Linked DNA regions of Homo sapiens. The protein of the gene in region 1 interacts with the protein of each later gene in a pairwise test. Each region holds a gene or a part of one and is shown in the gene's direction. Other genes may lie near its edges.

Region 1 (7,776 bases):
CGTGGTACCATGCGAGTAAGTGCCCTAGTGTGTGTGTGTGTGTGTGTGTGTGTGTGTGTGTGTGTGTATGTGTATGTATGTGGGGGGTGTGTTCTTTCTAGAATCAGTTGAGAGTCACTGTGGGTAAACATCCTTAGTGACTAAAACAAGCCTTCAAGTTGTTGGGTAGGGCTTACATTGCACGCAGCCAACTTGGAAGTTCAATTCTGGTGCACATAATACAAGTCCGTCCCATTTGAATGAACACCACAAACGGTTTGGTGTGACAACACCATTTCTCCACTGTGTCCATATTTACTTGATTGACTGATATGTGGCCAGCACTATGGTTAGCCCTTGTCAACTGGACAAAAAAAGGTAGCAGGCTTTAAAAAACGTTCGTGATCGGACTGGGCTTGGTGGCTCATGCCTGTAATCCCAGCACTTTGGGAGGCTGAGGTGGGCAGATCATGAGGTCAGGAGTTCGAGACCAGCCTGGCCAACATGGTGAAACCCCGTATCTACTAAAAATACAAAAATTAGCCAGGCGTGGTGGTGCGTGCCTGTAATCACAGCTACTCAGGAGGCTGAGGCAGAAGAATCGCTTGAACCCTGGAGGCAGAGGTTGCAGTGAGCCAAGATTGCACCACTGCACTCCAGCCTGGGCAACAGAGCGAGACTCCATCTCAAAAAAGAAAAAAAAGAGGCCGAGGTGGGTGGATCACAAAGTCAGGAGATCGAGACCAGCCTGGCTAACATGGTTAAATCTCATCTCTACTAAAAATACAAAAAATTAGCCAGGCGTGGTGGCGGGCACCTGTAGTCCCAGCTACTGTGGAGGCTGAGGGTGTGAACCTGGGAGGCGGCACTTGCAGTGAGCCGAGATCGTGCCACTACACTCCAGCCTGGGCGACAGAGTGGGAATCCGTCTCAAAAAACAAAACAAAAAAAAGTTCGTGGCTTTTAAGCTTATAGTCTAGTTGGAATGACAAATTGTGGACACTGTGAAATAATTAAAGAACTATAGAAGATCCTTGTGATGCCCCACCTCACCCCCTGACTATGAGGTGGCTTGGGCTGCTATTAATATATATTTCGAGAGGTTCCATGACTTGTCCAAGGTAACCAAGGCACAGGGCAAGCCCCAAAAGCTGCATGTGCTGGCTCTTTTAATGAGCTGTTCCTTTCAATGTTGCATTCTGGGATCCAGACCGTAAATGCCGGCCCATACCAAGAGCATCTGGATGATTCTGGCTTGAACTAGTCCCACAATGTGAACAATGAAGCTTTCTCTAGTGGCAATCTAGGTAGTGGTCATTCTCCCAAGTGAACTTTCAGGGGCTAACTTTGCCCTACAAAGTTAGCTGGGGTTGGTCTGGGTCAACTGTCTCAGAGCAACTGTCTTCAGGTGGGGAAAAGATTGCTGCTGCACTCTGGTTTTGCTATCATCACGTGGCAGTTACCCTTTGATTCCCTTTGAGGTCTCTGCTTCAGGCGTTCCTACCACCACCCACTAAAGGTAGTATCGTACCTCAAACATAGAAAACAAAACCCTATTACCTAGCTCTATTGGTGATACAACACGGAAGAAAGTTTACATGGCCCTAAATATTTAAAAATGTTGATTCTAAATTTGAGGGGTTTTTGGACAGTCATTACATTATTTTCTAACTTCTCTGTGTGTTTGGGATGTTTCTTTTCTTCTTTTCCTTTTTTTTTTTTTTTTCCCCGAGATGGAGTCTTGTTCTGTCGCCCAGGCTGGAATGCAGTGGCGCGATCTCAGCTCACTGCAACCTCCGCCTCCTGGGTTCAAGAAATTATCCTGCCTCAGCCTCCCGAGTAGCTGGGATTACAGGTGTGCACCACCGTGCCCAGCTAATTTTTGTATTTTTAGTAGAAACAGGGTTTCACCATGTTGGCCAGGCTGGTCTCGAACTCCTGACCTCGTGATCTGCCCACCTTGGCCTCTCAAAGTCCTGGGATTACAGGTGTGAGCCACAGCGCCCGGCCTGGGATTTTTCAAAATAAAAAGCGGGCAGAATGACAATGTCCCCCAAATGCACATGGTCCCTTCTTTCAAGGAACTGGTGGAGGCAGACACAAATCACTATCTAATTATCTTTGTGATAAGTGCTACACAGGAGAGTGACTGCCTGCCATGAGATTTCATTACTAAGGGAACCTAACTCAGCAATGAATGGAGGCAGAGGGTGACAGGAAGGGCTTCCTGAGGGCTTCAAATAGGAAATGGGTAGGTGTGAAGGTGGGTGAGATCTCACATCTGCTACTGGGTTGGGAACATTTCATTTGCCAATTCACCCACTTTTATTTTCATTCATTCCTTCAGCACATATTCACTGGGCACTGATCGGCCAGGCCCCGTGCCAGGTGCTGAGGATATAGTGGTGGCCAAGGCACGCAGGAACTCTGCCCTCTCACAGCTTCCAGATGAAAGGCAGGAATAAGCCCTGTTTCCTTTTTACATCCTAAATCCTGGAAATGTGAGTGTTAGCGGTGTTCTTAATACAAAACTACATTATAGCAGAGTGATTTGTCTGTATCATCTAATGAGATTTTGATCTGCAGTCATGTGCATAGCATTTACTTTGTGGAGTCTCTGCTGTAAATTTTCTATTAATTGCTGGCTTTGTTACCAAGCATGGCCACTGCCTTTGTGTGCTATAAGGGAGCAAACCTATTGCATTAGCCTGAGCAAAGCCAATTAGGAAGATAAGTCCTCTGGAAAAAGGTATTCCCAAACTAAGTAGGGCTGATTTCTGGACTTGCCTGGGTTTTTGGATGATCAGAGCCATGGTTTAATATTAGCATGAACAATTGAGAAGGGCTTTTAGTTGCATGTACATTAAAACTACATTCAAGACAGATGAGGCCAGGTGCGGTGGCTCACGTCTGTAATCCCAGCACTTTGGGAGGCCGAGGCGGGCAGATCATGAGGTTAGGAGATCCAGACCATTCTGGCTAACACGGTGAAACCCCATCTCTACTAAAAATTAAAAAATTAGCCGGGCGTGGTGGCGGGTGCCTGTAGTCCCAGCTACTCTGGAGGCTGAAACAGGAGAATGGCGTGAACCCGGGAGGCGGAGCTTGCAGTGAGCCGAGATTGTGCCACTGCACTCCATCCTGGGCGACAGAGTGAGACTCCGTCTCAAAAAAGAAAAAAAAAAAAAGACAGATGAAAGAAAGAAAGAAGGAAAGAAGGAAAAAGAAGGAAAGAAGGAAAGCCATGGATATATATAACATGTTTCTTTCAACGATCTCGAAATGCTTCCATCTGTATGATTTCATTTTCCCCAATGGCTTCCTGGACAAGTATTACTGTTCCCTTTATTTAATGGGTGTAGGGAGACCAAGTTACTTAGTCCGAAGTGCTATTGCTGGTCAGTGGGTGATACGATTAAACACCCACCAGATGACACAGATTCCTTGTTTAAAAACACTTGTCTTTTCATGATGTTTCTAAGACATCAAAATCCTGCCATGACCTCTCTTCCCCCTCTTTTCACTACACTCCCTCAGCACTCCCATAGGGCCCAGGGAAGAGTATACTAGGGTGATTCGGAGACTCTCTGATATTAAAAAGATTCTCAGCTTAAATCCAATATAGCACAGTCACGGGTTGTGTGGGTTTTCTTTTTTATTTTTTCTTCTCCATATTGCTTTAAATAAAAATCTTGGAGCCACCAGCCATGTAATGATGGATTATTTTAAGTAACAACTGGAGTGGGGGGCGCAGAATAAATTAGAAACACAGACCCTTCCTCCTCAGTTTGGCAGGAGGAGGCTTCTGCTGCTGGGATTTGAAACCGTGGGTTTCTCTGCCGCCTGCACAGAGGAAGGAGGCCACATGCTCAGGAGGGTGAGAAATAATGTTATCCTCTTCTTCAGTGTCTTCTCATTAGAGGCAGCCATCTGCTGAATTATGCAGCGCGCTCTCAGCCGGCCCTTCCACTCACTTAAAGGTGACCAGGGAAAAGATCTGCAGGCCTTCTCAGCGAGAGGCCTCAGGGCTCAGGTTTCCCCTGCCATGGCCCTCTCTGACCCGGAATGAAGGCCCTGGGGTAACGGGGCAGAACTCTGTTTTCCTGGCCCTGATGAGGTGTGAGGTCGTGTTCGGTTTCCTTTCACATTGGAGGCCCCCAGCTCTGAACACTGGCGCTGAGGCAGGAACTGGGTTTTTTTCAGATCCCCATTAAACAAGACCAGATGGAGGCAGAGGCAAATTCAGGCTCCCCAGAGGGCAGTTGGGCATTCACCCAGAGGCCTGTGGGTAAACCTTTTCTTTTTTAGCAGATTGGAGGTAACAATAGCCAGAACACCTAGAAAACTCTCTTTCAATTGTCTGGCTTCCAGGGAATCTGGCTGGCTTTTGTGGGAAAGTTTCACTCACCCTGAGCAAGGGTCACCCCTGGCCTGAGGTGGGGATATTTGACCTAGACTTAGGCTTGTGTTAGTCTTGGGGTTCTTCAGCAGAACTGGGCAGCTGGCCAGGCTGAGACTTAGGCCGCAGTCAAAAGAGAGGGAAACAGGAGGAAAAAGTGGGGAAGTGAGTAGAGAGCAGGAACACACAATGAGTGCCTTCCACCGCATTGACTGCTTCAGTTGCCTTCTGTGGGCCAGAACCACCTTGGGGAGCTCACGGGTTTCCAGATTCGGTTCCTTGACCCTTCTGCCCCTGACCAGCATCAAGCCAGAAGCTCAATGTCCCGGAATTTTACCAGTCTAAAGAAACACATGTGCCACTTGAGTCAGCTTTTCCATTTGAGAGTGGCCGTTGGCTCGACAGGGGCCTGGATCCTAGCACTATTCTCTGTCACTAAATCAGTCTGTGACGTGAGCCAAGTCACTTCCTCTCTGTGAGTCTCTGTTTCCCCTTTTGTGAAACGAAAGGGCTGGATTAGGTGATCTTTAAGGGCGTTTCCAGCTCTAACATTGTATGGTGCTTATGTTTCCTTTTTCTCCAGCCTCATTTCTTTTAGGTCCTTGCCTGCGTCTGCTTCCGAATGAGGTGGCAGAATTGAACCCCACCCCTTCCCTGCTTTGACCCCTTGAGCTGGGTGGGGAGAGAGTCGTAGGGAAGGTCGATCTATGCTTTTAGCTCAGCAGGCTCTCGGTAAGTGGAACAGAAACAACCCTTCAGATATTGCCTGTCCATGTAGGTGTAGATAGCTATTGTCTTCCTATAAAGGTACATGACAGCTGAATGTTTGTCTATTGAATCCTGCTTTCAATGCAGTAGAAGAGCCGGCTACTTAATGGAATCCTGCTGTGAATCCTTTTATAGAATGAAAAGCCACTCTGGAATTTATCTTGTGTATTAAAATCAGTTTCATCTATTGGATTTGCCAAAAATGGGCCTCCTCCTCTGTCTGGTAAGGATAGTCTGTCTTGTGCTTCTTCAGCACAACTGCTCCCCAACTGAAGGGCATTTCTGAGGCCCCTTGGGGGTGCTGCCAGCTTTTGCAGGCCTTATTTCTCCTTAGAACAGCCCCCACATTTCTCTTTCCCAGGATAGGGCATTGCTACTACTCAGTTTCCTCTTAGCCTGGCTTAATTAGCATGAGGGACATTCTGATATTTGATGTGTTGGATGCATTTGAGAATTGTTTTTAAAACCTGTGGGAACTTGGCTGTGTGCGGGGGCTCACACCTGTAATCCCAGCACTTTAGGAGACTGAGGCGGGCGGATCACCTGAGGTTAGGAGTTCGAGACCAGCCTGGCCAATATGGCAAAACCCCGTCTCTTCTAAAAATACAAACATTAGCTGGATGTGGTGGTGGGCGCCTGTAATCCCAGCTACTCGGGAGGCTGAGGTAGGAGAATCACTTGAACCCTGGAGACGGAGGTTGCAATGAGCTGAGATCGTGCCACCGCACTCCAGCCTGAGAGAGACAGAGTGAGACTCCATCTCAGAAAAAAAAAAAAAAAAAAAAAACCTCTGGGAACTTATCAGTGCTTTTGTGGTTCTTATGACATAATACAGCGGCATCCTTGGCAGCATTGGAGGCAGCAGAGGAAGCTATCAGCTACCTGATTGTTTCATCAAGACTTTTTGCTACATGTTTCAGGATATATGATTTGACTTCTGGTTCACATGAATCATTATAATAAGAAATTATACTGTATGACAATAAGTTATATATATAATATGTAATAATAAGTTATAATAAGGGGGCTGGGCACAGTGGCTCACGCCTATATTCCCAGAACTTTGGGAGGCCGAGGCGAGTGGATCACCTGAAGTCAGGAGTTCTAGACCAGCCTGGCCAACATGGTGAAACCCCATCTCTACTAAACTAAAAATACAAAAATTAGCTGGGTGTGGTGGTACACACCTGTAATCCCAGCTACTCAGGAAGCTGAGGCAGGAGAATCGCTTGAAACCAGGAGGGAGAGGTTGCAGTGAGCTGAGATCGCGCCACTGCACTCCAGCCTGGTTGACAGAGTGAGACACTGTCTCAAAAAAAAAAAAAAAAAGAAGTTATAATAAGGAGACTAATAGGGTTTTATTGTATTTCTGGTAAAATAAATGTTTTATATACAATAAAACTGCCTGAAAGCTAAATGCTCTGATGACCCAAATTGTCAGGCACCTTTTTGGTTGTAGTTCAATATTTTTCTAAAATACCTGAGGCCACTTTCCTACCCAGGAAAGTATCATCATAGAATCTTTTTTAAAAAAGTAACATTTTCCCTGTTTATAAAAGTAAAATATGCCTATTGTAGAACATTTGGAAAACCCAGAAAAGCAACATCACCTACAACCTCTCTACCCAAAAGAAATCACTGACATTATTTTGGCATGTGTTCTTCTAATCTTTTAAAAAATGTGTATTTTCCCCCATCATTGGGATGACCCTGTGTATACAGGTTGGTTTTCCTGTTGTTGTTTGCCTTTGGTGAGCATTTCCTTTTGTCATTAAATATTCTTAGAAAACATTTTTCTCAGCTGCTTAATATTCCATCATGTATCACTGAACCGATGATTCATAGTCTTGGAGATTTGCACGGTCTTTCAGACATCAGTGTTCAGGGCTGAGAGTGGAAATGGAGAAAAGGGAGGTGTGAGAGCTTGGGCCCACCAGTAGGTGACTGAAGAGAGTCCGGTTTCAGTGTTTCTTTTCTTTCCTAGCATTTTTGTTGTTGTTGTTTGTTTGTTTGTTTTGAGACAGAGTCTCCCTCTGTTGCCCAGACTGGAGTGCAGTTGTGCGATCTCAGCTCATTGCAACCTCCGCCTCCTGCGTTCAAGCGATTCTCCTGCCTCAGCCTCCCAACTGGCTGGGACTACAGGCATGAGCCACCAAGCCTGGCTAATTTTTGTATTTTCAGTAGAGACGGGTTTTCCCAGTGTTGGCCAGGCTGGTTTCGAATTCCTGGCCCCAAGTAATCTGCCCGCCTTGGCCTCCCAAAGTGCTGGGATTACAGGCATGAGCCACCGTACCTGGCCGCTTTCCTAGTATTTGGATGGGAATGGCCAGAGGAGAAAGTTTAGGGACAGCCTAGTCATCAGCAATGAGTTTCAAACTTTTTGCTTTTATTCTTTAGAATGACAGCTACTAATTTAGCCACCCTGGTTTGAAACAGAGGCGGGAAATTCTCCATTGACACAGATGCACCCTCAGTTCCCAGAGGCCTCAAATACGGCTTGCTTACTATCACAGAGGTTGGAAGAGGGGCCAAGGGGAGTGGGGGACAGAGGTGGCCTACTCGGGTGCTTAAGGGACTCTTTATTTTCAGTAACAGCAATGAGAGAAAGATGCGCAGCTGGAACCACCATA
Region 2 (7,388 bases), on another chromosome or scaffold:
GAAAGATGAGAGAAATGGCTTAGCTACCTGGAGGGTTAATTATAAAACAGAGGTCCTGTTGCCTTCCGATCTGATCACTTGCATCTCATTTGCAGATCACCTTTAGGCTCCACAGCCTCTGCCCCAGCACCCTCAGCACTCCCGGCCCCTCCAGCACCCCCAGTCTTCCATGGCATGCTGGAGCGGGCCCCAGCAGAGCCCTCCTACCGTGCTCCCATGGAGAAGCTTTTCTACTTACCTCATGTCTGCAGCTATACCTGTCTGTCTCGAGTCAGACCTATGAGGAATGAGCAGTACCGGGGCAAGAACCCTCTGCTGGTCCCGTTACTATATGACTTCCGGCGGATGACAGCCCGGCGTCGAGTTAACCGCAAGATGGGCTTTCATGTTATCTATAAGACACCTTGTGGTCTCTGCCTTCGGACAATGCAGGAGATAGAACGCTACCTTTTCGAGACTGGCTGTGACTTCCTCTTCCTGGAGATGTTCTGTTTGGATCCATATGTTCTTGTGGACCGAAAGTTTCAGCCCTATAAGCCTTTTTACTATATTTTGGACATCACTTATGGGAAGGAAGATGTTCCCCTATCCTGTGTCAATGAGATTGACACAACCCCTCCACCCCAGGTGGCCTACAGCAAGGAACGTATCCCGGGCAAGGGTGTTTTCATTAACACAGGCCCTGAATTTCTGGTTGGCTGTGACTGCAAGGATGGGTGTCGGGACAAGTGAGTTGGTGGGGGGAATTGCTGCCCCTGCTTCCAACTTTGTTATGGTGTCTGTTTCACCTCTTCCTTTGCCTTGTATCTGTACTGCTTTCCCCATCTTCCTTTACCTCCTCCCTCACCTGGAACTCCTGCTATAAGGCCTCCATGAAAGCTATGAGGTAGGGAGGCTGGAGTCTGACATGGCCACACTGAGCAACCTTGGGTACATGTGTATTGTGTTATTTTTGTTCTCTGATCCCCCCGCTCCTTTCCTTTATTTCCCTCTGTCATATAGGTCCAAGTGTGCCTGCCATCAACTAACTATCCAGGCTACAGCCTGTACCCCAGGAGGCCAAATCAACCCTAACTCTGGCTACCAGTACAAGAGACTAGAAGAGTGTCTACCCACAGGGTAAGTGGTCAAGGAATGGCACAGTACCTCAGAGAGACTGAGGAGCATGTTCTTGTTTTTCTGTGCTTATAGAAATCATCAGAAATCTAAAAATTGGAACCAAAAATAGAATACCAGATGAGGCATTTTATTAATTAGATCTTATTTCATGACTTCCAAAACACATTTTTTTTCTTGGACCTTCCTTGAAATGAAGACATAGAATGATTGAATAGTATCTAGCAATTTTCTGTTGCAAAAAAAGATTATCTTAATTTCATAGCTAAATGAATGTCTTAACAGATTGTGATTTACACTTGTAAGTGAAATGTGTTCAGAGAGGAGAAGTAGGCAGGGACCTGATTACATAGGGCTTTGTAAATCAGAATGAAAAAAGTTAGAATCAGGCTGGCACAGTGGCTCACACCTGTAATCCCAGCACTTTCGGAGGCCAAGGTGGGTGGATCACCTGAGGTCAGGAGTTTGAGACCAGCCTGGCCAACCTGGTGAAACCCTGTCTCTACTAAAAATACAAAAATTAGCCGGGGGTGGTGGCGGGTGCCTGCAGTCCCAACTACTTGGGAGGCTGAGGCAGGAGAATCGCTTGAATCCAGGAGGCAGAGGTTGCAGTGAGCCAAGATCATGCCACTGCACTTCAGCCTGGGTGACAAGAGCGAGACTCTGCCTTAAAAAAAAAAAAAGAAAAGTTAGAATCAAATTCATGGTGCTCTTACAGGATTTTAAGCTGCCAAGTGATGTGACCTGCCTTTTTCAGATTACTCTGGCTTCTTTGTAGATCATAGGTCTTAGGATGGCAAAAGTAGATTTTGGAAGACCAATTAGGAGATCGTTATAGGAGTACAGCAGAGAGAGACATTGTTGCAGCTATGACTTGCAATAGAATGGAGGTGATAGTAGAGGTAAGAAGGATAGATTTGGGCTGTATTAATAGGTAGAGCTACAGAATTGGATAGATTATGGAGTGGGGGGAAAGAGTAGAATCAAGGACAATTCCTAAATTTTTGGCTTGAGCATCTTAGTGGTTGTTGGTGCTTTTTACTGAGATGGAAGACCGAAGGAGTAGTAGGTTTGAGTGAAATTCAGTTTTTGTTTTGGCCATGTTAAGTTTGAAATGCCGCCGGGCGCAGTGGCTCACGCCTGTAATCCCAGCACTTTGGGAGGCTGAGGCGGGCGGATCACCTGAGGTCGGGAGTTCAAGACCAGCCTTGACCAACATGGAGAAATCCCGTCTCTACTAAAAATACAAAAAAAAAAAATTAGCCGGGCATGGTGGCGCATGCCTGTAATCTCAGCTACTCGGGAGGCTGAGGCAGGAGAATTGCTTGAATCTGGGAGGCGGAGGTTGTGGTGAGCTAAGATCGCACCATTGCACTCCAGCCTGGGCAACAAGAGCGAAACTCAGTCTCAGAAAACAAAACAAAACAAAAAGTTTGAAATGCCTGTCAGGCAATCCAAGTAGAAATGTCAAGAAGACACTGGGATTTCTGGAGAGAGTGGGATATAAAAATTTAGGAATCATCAGCACAGGAGTATTTAAAGCCTGAATAAGTTCACCTAGAGACAATGTTGATAATAGAGAAGGCGGCTCAGGAGTAAGCCCTGGGTGCCCCAACATTTAAAGGTTGAGCAGAGGAGGTGGAACCAGCATGAGGTTGAGGACAGCTACTGAGGAGGGTGAGGCCGAAAGATTACTTGAGGCCTGGAGTTTGAGACCAGACTGGGCAACATAGTAAGACCCTGTGTCTAAAAAAAAATTGTTGGGGCTGGGCGTGGTGGCTCACGCCTGTAATCCCAGCACTTTTCGAGGCTGAGGCAGGCAGATCACTTGAGGTCAGGAGTTCAAGACCAGCCTGGCCAATATGGTGAAACCCCATCTCTACTAAAAATACAAAAAACTTGCCAGGGATGGTGGCGAGCACCTGTAATCCCAGCTACTTGGGAGGCTGAGACAGGAGAATCACTTGGACCCAGGAGGTGGAGGTTGCAGTGAGCCAAGACCGCACCATTGCACTCCAGCCTGGGCAAGAAAAGCAAAATTCTATCTCAAAAAAAAAAAAAAATTGTTGGCCATGCGCGGTGGCTCATGCCTGTAATCCCAACACTTTGGGAGGCCAAGGTGGGTGGATCACCTGAGGTCAGGAGTTCAAGAACAGCCTGGCCAACATGGTGAAACCCCATCTGTAATAAAAATACAAAAATTAGCCAGGCGTGATTGTGCACGCCTGTAATCTCAGCTATTTGGGAGGCTGAGGCAAGAGAATCGCTTGAAGCTGGGAGGCAGAGATTACAGTAAGCTGAGATTGCACCACTGCACTCCAGTCTGGACAACACAACAAGACTCCGTCTCAAAAAAAATGATTTAAAAATTAAAAAAAAAATTTTTTTTTTTTTTAGATGGAGTCTTGCTCTGTCGCCCAGGCTGGAGTGCAGTGGCGTGATCTCAGCTCACTGCAAGCTCCGCCTTCCGGGTTCACGCCATTCTCCTGCCTCAGCCTCCCGAGAAGCTGGGACTACAGTCGCCCACCACCACGCCTGACTACTTTTTTGTATTTTTAGTAGAGACAGGGTTTCACCATGTTAGCCAGGATGGTCTCTATCTCCTGACCTCATGATCCGTCTGCCTCAGCCTCCCAAAGTGCTGGGATTACAGGCGTGAGCCACCGCGCCCAGCCTAAATTATTTTTTAAAAAATTAGCCGGGCATGGTAGATGCATGCCTGTAGTCCCAGCTACTTGAGAGGCAGAGGCAGAAAGATCACTTGAGCCCAGTAGTTCAAGGCTGCAGTGAGCTATGATCACACCACTACACTCTAGCCTGGGGTGACAGAGCATGACTCTTATCTCTAAAACAAGAGGAGGACAACAAAAGAGTGGGGTATAGCATGGTAAACTGGTATATATAAACACGTGAACTAATAAACCTAGTGATCAGAATACATAATTAACAGAACAGAGGAGAAAAGCATCAGTGAAATAATTCAGAAAGTGTCCCATAATTGAAGGATCTTTGTTTCTGAATTGAAAGGGCCAGTTAGGTCCCAACATAATGAAGGATAAAGGTAGGTTCCCATTAAGAGACATTATCATAAAATGTCAGAACACTGAGGGAAAAAAAAATCCTAAAAGCTTCTAGAGAAGAGAAATAGAACACGTTAAAAAATAGACTTGAAATGACTTCAGCCTTCCCTGAAAGTAGCACTAGAAGCTAGATAGCAATTGGAGAATCTGTTCAGAATTCTAAGGGAAAATTATTTCCAACCTGGAATTTTAAACTCGGGCAAACTATCAATTTGGTGTTACAGTAGGCTAAATACATTTTTTTAGACATGCAGTACCTCAGAGTTTTTCATCATTCCCCTTCTCAGAAAGTTTCTGGAAATATTTGCAAAAATGAGAGGGAAAGGCAGGAAAGGGGAAGACAGGTGACAGTGCAGTGAAAGAGGCTTCCAGGCTGACAGCTGTGTACTAGGCATAGAGAAGAGCCACTGCAGGAGCAGGTCAGATGCTGTAGGAGCGACTTCTTCAGGAAAATTGGTTTAACAGAAAACCTGAGGTGCCTGAATACATTCAGAGGAGATCGAGACTACTGGGGAGATCATAGGATGAATTTGTACTGATAACATTGAAAAACTAAACAAAGGAATAGACAGTTGTTTAGTTGCATTGCTGTATCATGTATGTTTTAATTATTAACAAAATTTTGAATCTAACAATAGCGTTTAGATTTGATAATGCTGGGTGGTACATGAGTGTTCATATCTTTTTTACACGTTTGAAATGTTTCATAAAAATATTTTCAAATAATCACAAATAATATATCACTCCCCTGCTTAACTCTATAATATAGTCCCTCTGCTGTTTGGATTTTATTCTGACTCTTAACCTTAGGTTATATATTTGGCCCTTTCCTGTCTCCCTCCAAAGTCATTCCAACCACACTGATATTTTTCAGTTCCTGGATCCAGTTCAACCAGTGTTTTCCAGCCTGCCTCTGGAGACTTGCACATGCTGTGCCTTCTTCTTGGCATCCTTCCACTTTTCTTTGTGTGGCTATCTTCTTTAACCTTGAGCTTTCAGCTGTAAAGTCACCTCCTCAGAGAGACCTTCCCTGACCACTTTAAAACTAGGTCATTTTACTCCCTTAATTCTCTCATTGAGCACCATGTTTGTGTTCTTTATAGCATTTATGACAACTTTTGTTGACTTGTTTTTCTTTTTTTCTATTATATAAGCTCCTTCATGAGGGCAAGGATCTTATCTGTCTCTTTGTCTTGCTAACCATTGTATCACCAGTTTACCCAATGCCTGGCACATAGTAATCACTTAGGCCAGGTGCAGTGGCTGATGCCTGTAATCCCAGCACTTTGGGAGGCCAAGGCGGGCAGATCACTTGAGGTCAGGAGTTCGAGACCAGCCTAGCCAACATGGTGAAACCCTGTCTCTACTAATAAAGTATAAAAAATTAGCCAGGCGTGGTGGCACATGCCTGTAGTGCTAGCTACTCAGGAGGCTGAGATGGGAGAATTGGTTGAACCCAGGAGGCAGAGGTTGCAGTGAGCCGAGATTGCACCATTGCACTCCAGCCTGGGCGACAGAAGGAGACTTCGTCTCAAAAAAAAAAAAAAAGCCAAGCGCAGTGGCTCACGCCTGTAATCCCAGCACTTTGGGAGGCCGAGACAGGTGGATTACGAGGTCAGGAATTCAAGATCAGCCTGGCCAAGATGTTGAAACCCCGTCTCTACTAAAAATACAAAAATTAGCCATGTGCGGTGGCAGGCGCCTGTAATCCCAGCTACTCCAGAGGCTGAGGCAGGAGAATCACTTGAACCCGCGAGGTGGAGGTTGCAGTGAGCCAAGATCCCACCACTGCACTCCGGCCTAGGCAATAGAGTGAGACTCCGCCTCAAAAAAAAAAAAAAAAGTAACCACTTAAATTTTGTGGAATGAATGAATGATAGTATAGCTACTGTAAAGGTTTCATGTGGTAATAATGACACCTGAGTTCAAATTCCAGCCCTGCCCCTACTGAGCTGATCTTTTTTGATCAGCTGTAAACAGAGGATATTAACATAAACACCCCCATGTCCCCAGTGGGGTTTTAAGGGACCTAACAAAGTTGTTTCTTGATCTGGTGCAGGTTACATGGTATGCTGAGTTTGTAAAATTCATTGATCTGTATAGACTTACGTGTACTTTCCTCTGTGTATATTACGTTTCAATAATCTTTTATTTCCCCCTACCCACTAGACCACCAGGGAAATAATCTCTTTTTTTTTTTTGCTATGGAGTCTTGCTCCCAAAGTGCTGGGATTACCGACATGGGAAATAATCTTTTTTAAAGTTAGAAAAAAAAGCTAGACATGGTGGCTCACACCTGTAATCCCAGCACTTTGGGAGGCCGTGGTGGGGGGATGGCTTGAGTTCAGTAGTTCCAGACTTGCCTGGGCAATGTGATGAGACCTTGTCTCTACAAAAAAAGTTTTAAAAATTAGCTGGGCATGTGGCATGCAGCTGTGGTCCCAGCTACTTAGGAGACTGAGGCAGGAGGATCACTTGAGCCCAGGAGGTCAAGGCTGCAGTGAGCTGTGTTTGTGCCGCTGCACTATGGTCTGGGTGACAGAGCAAGACCATGACTCAAAAAAAAAAAAAATGGGAGGTCGAAGCAGGTGGATCACCTGAGGTCAGGAGTTCAAGACCAGCCTGGCCAACATGGTAAAACCCTGTCTCCAATACAAAAATTAGCAGGGTATGATGGCATGCACCTATAATCCCAGCTACTTGGGAGGCTGAGGCAGGAGAATCGCTTGAACCCAGGAAGCGGAGGTTGGGCGACAAAGCGAGACTGTGTCTCAAAAAGAAAAAACACCACCTGTATTAGGGCAGCTTTAAGGATAGAATATGTATATATAAGGCATTCACACAATGCCAAACACAAAAGTATATGCTTAGTAACTAGAAGCTGCTCTTACCATCTTTATCTGGAGAGAGGATATGACTAAAATCGTGAACTAACTGAGCTGTTGATACATTTCCAAAGTAAATTTCTTCCATTGATTTTACATACCAAGAAAATAAGTAAAATTCTAACACTGGGCAAATAGAGCAAAAACATTGTTACCTGAAACAATTAGTTTTCTTAGTATAACTGTGTTATCTTCCTTTAATGTTGGTATGTGCTAGATCCCTCTGATTACCTTTAATGGTTGTTTAAAAATAATTAAAATTTTTTTCTTTTTCAGAGATGGGGTGGACTTGCTTTGTCATTCAGGC

What was found. The genes of interacting proteins can lie anywhere in the genome.
Region 2: the proteins of SEPTIN6 (region 1) and SETDB1 interact in binary tests that used the Homo sapiens proteins (3 or more experiments, as listed by UniProt).

Annotation. Positions count from the first base shown.
Region 1 is NC_000023.11:119,682,640-119,690,415, reverse strand, and holds part of SEPTIN6 (septin-6), read left to right. Parts: intron 1-7,776. UniProt on the Homo sapiens protein: Filament-forming cytoskeletal GTPase. Required for normal organization of the actin cytoskeleton. Involved in cytokinesis. May play a role in HCV RNA replication.
Region 2 is NC_000001.11:150,950,363-150,957,750, forward strand, and holds part of SETDB1 (histone-lysine N-methyltransferase SETDB1), read left to right. Parts: intron 1-95; coding exon 96-728; coding exon of another isoform or gene 729-732; intron 733-1,002; coding exon 1,003-1,119; intron 1,120-7,388. UniProt on the Homo sapiens protein: Histone methyltransferase that specifically trimethylates 'Lys-9' of histone H3. H3 'Lys-9' trimethylation represents a specific tag for epigenetic transcriptional repression by recruiting HP1 (CBX1, CBX3 and/or CBX5) proteins to methylated histones.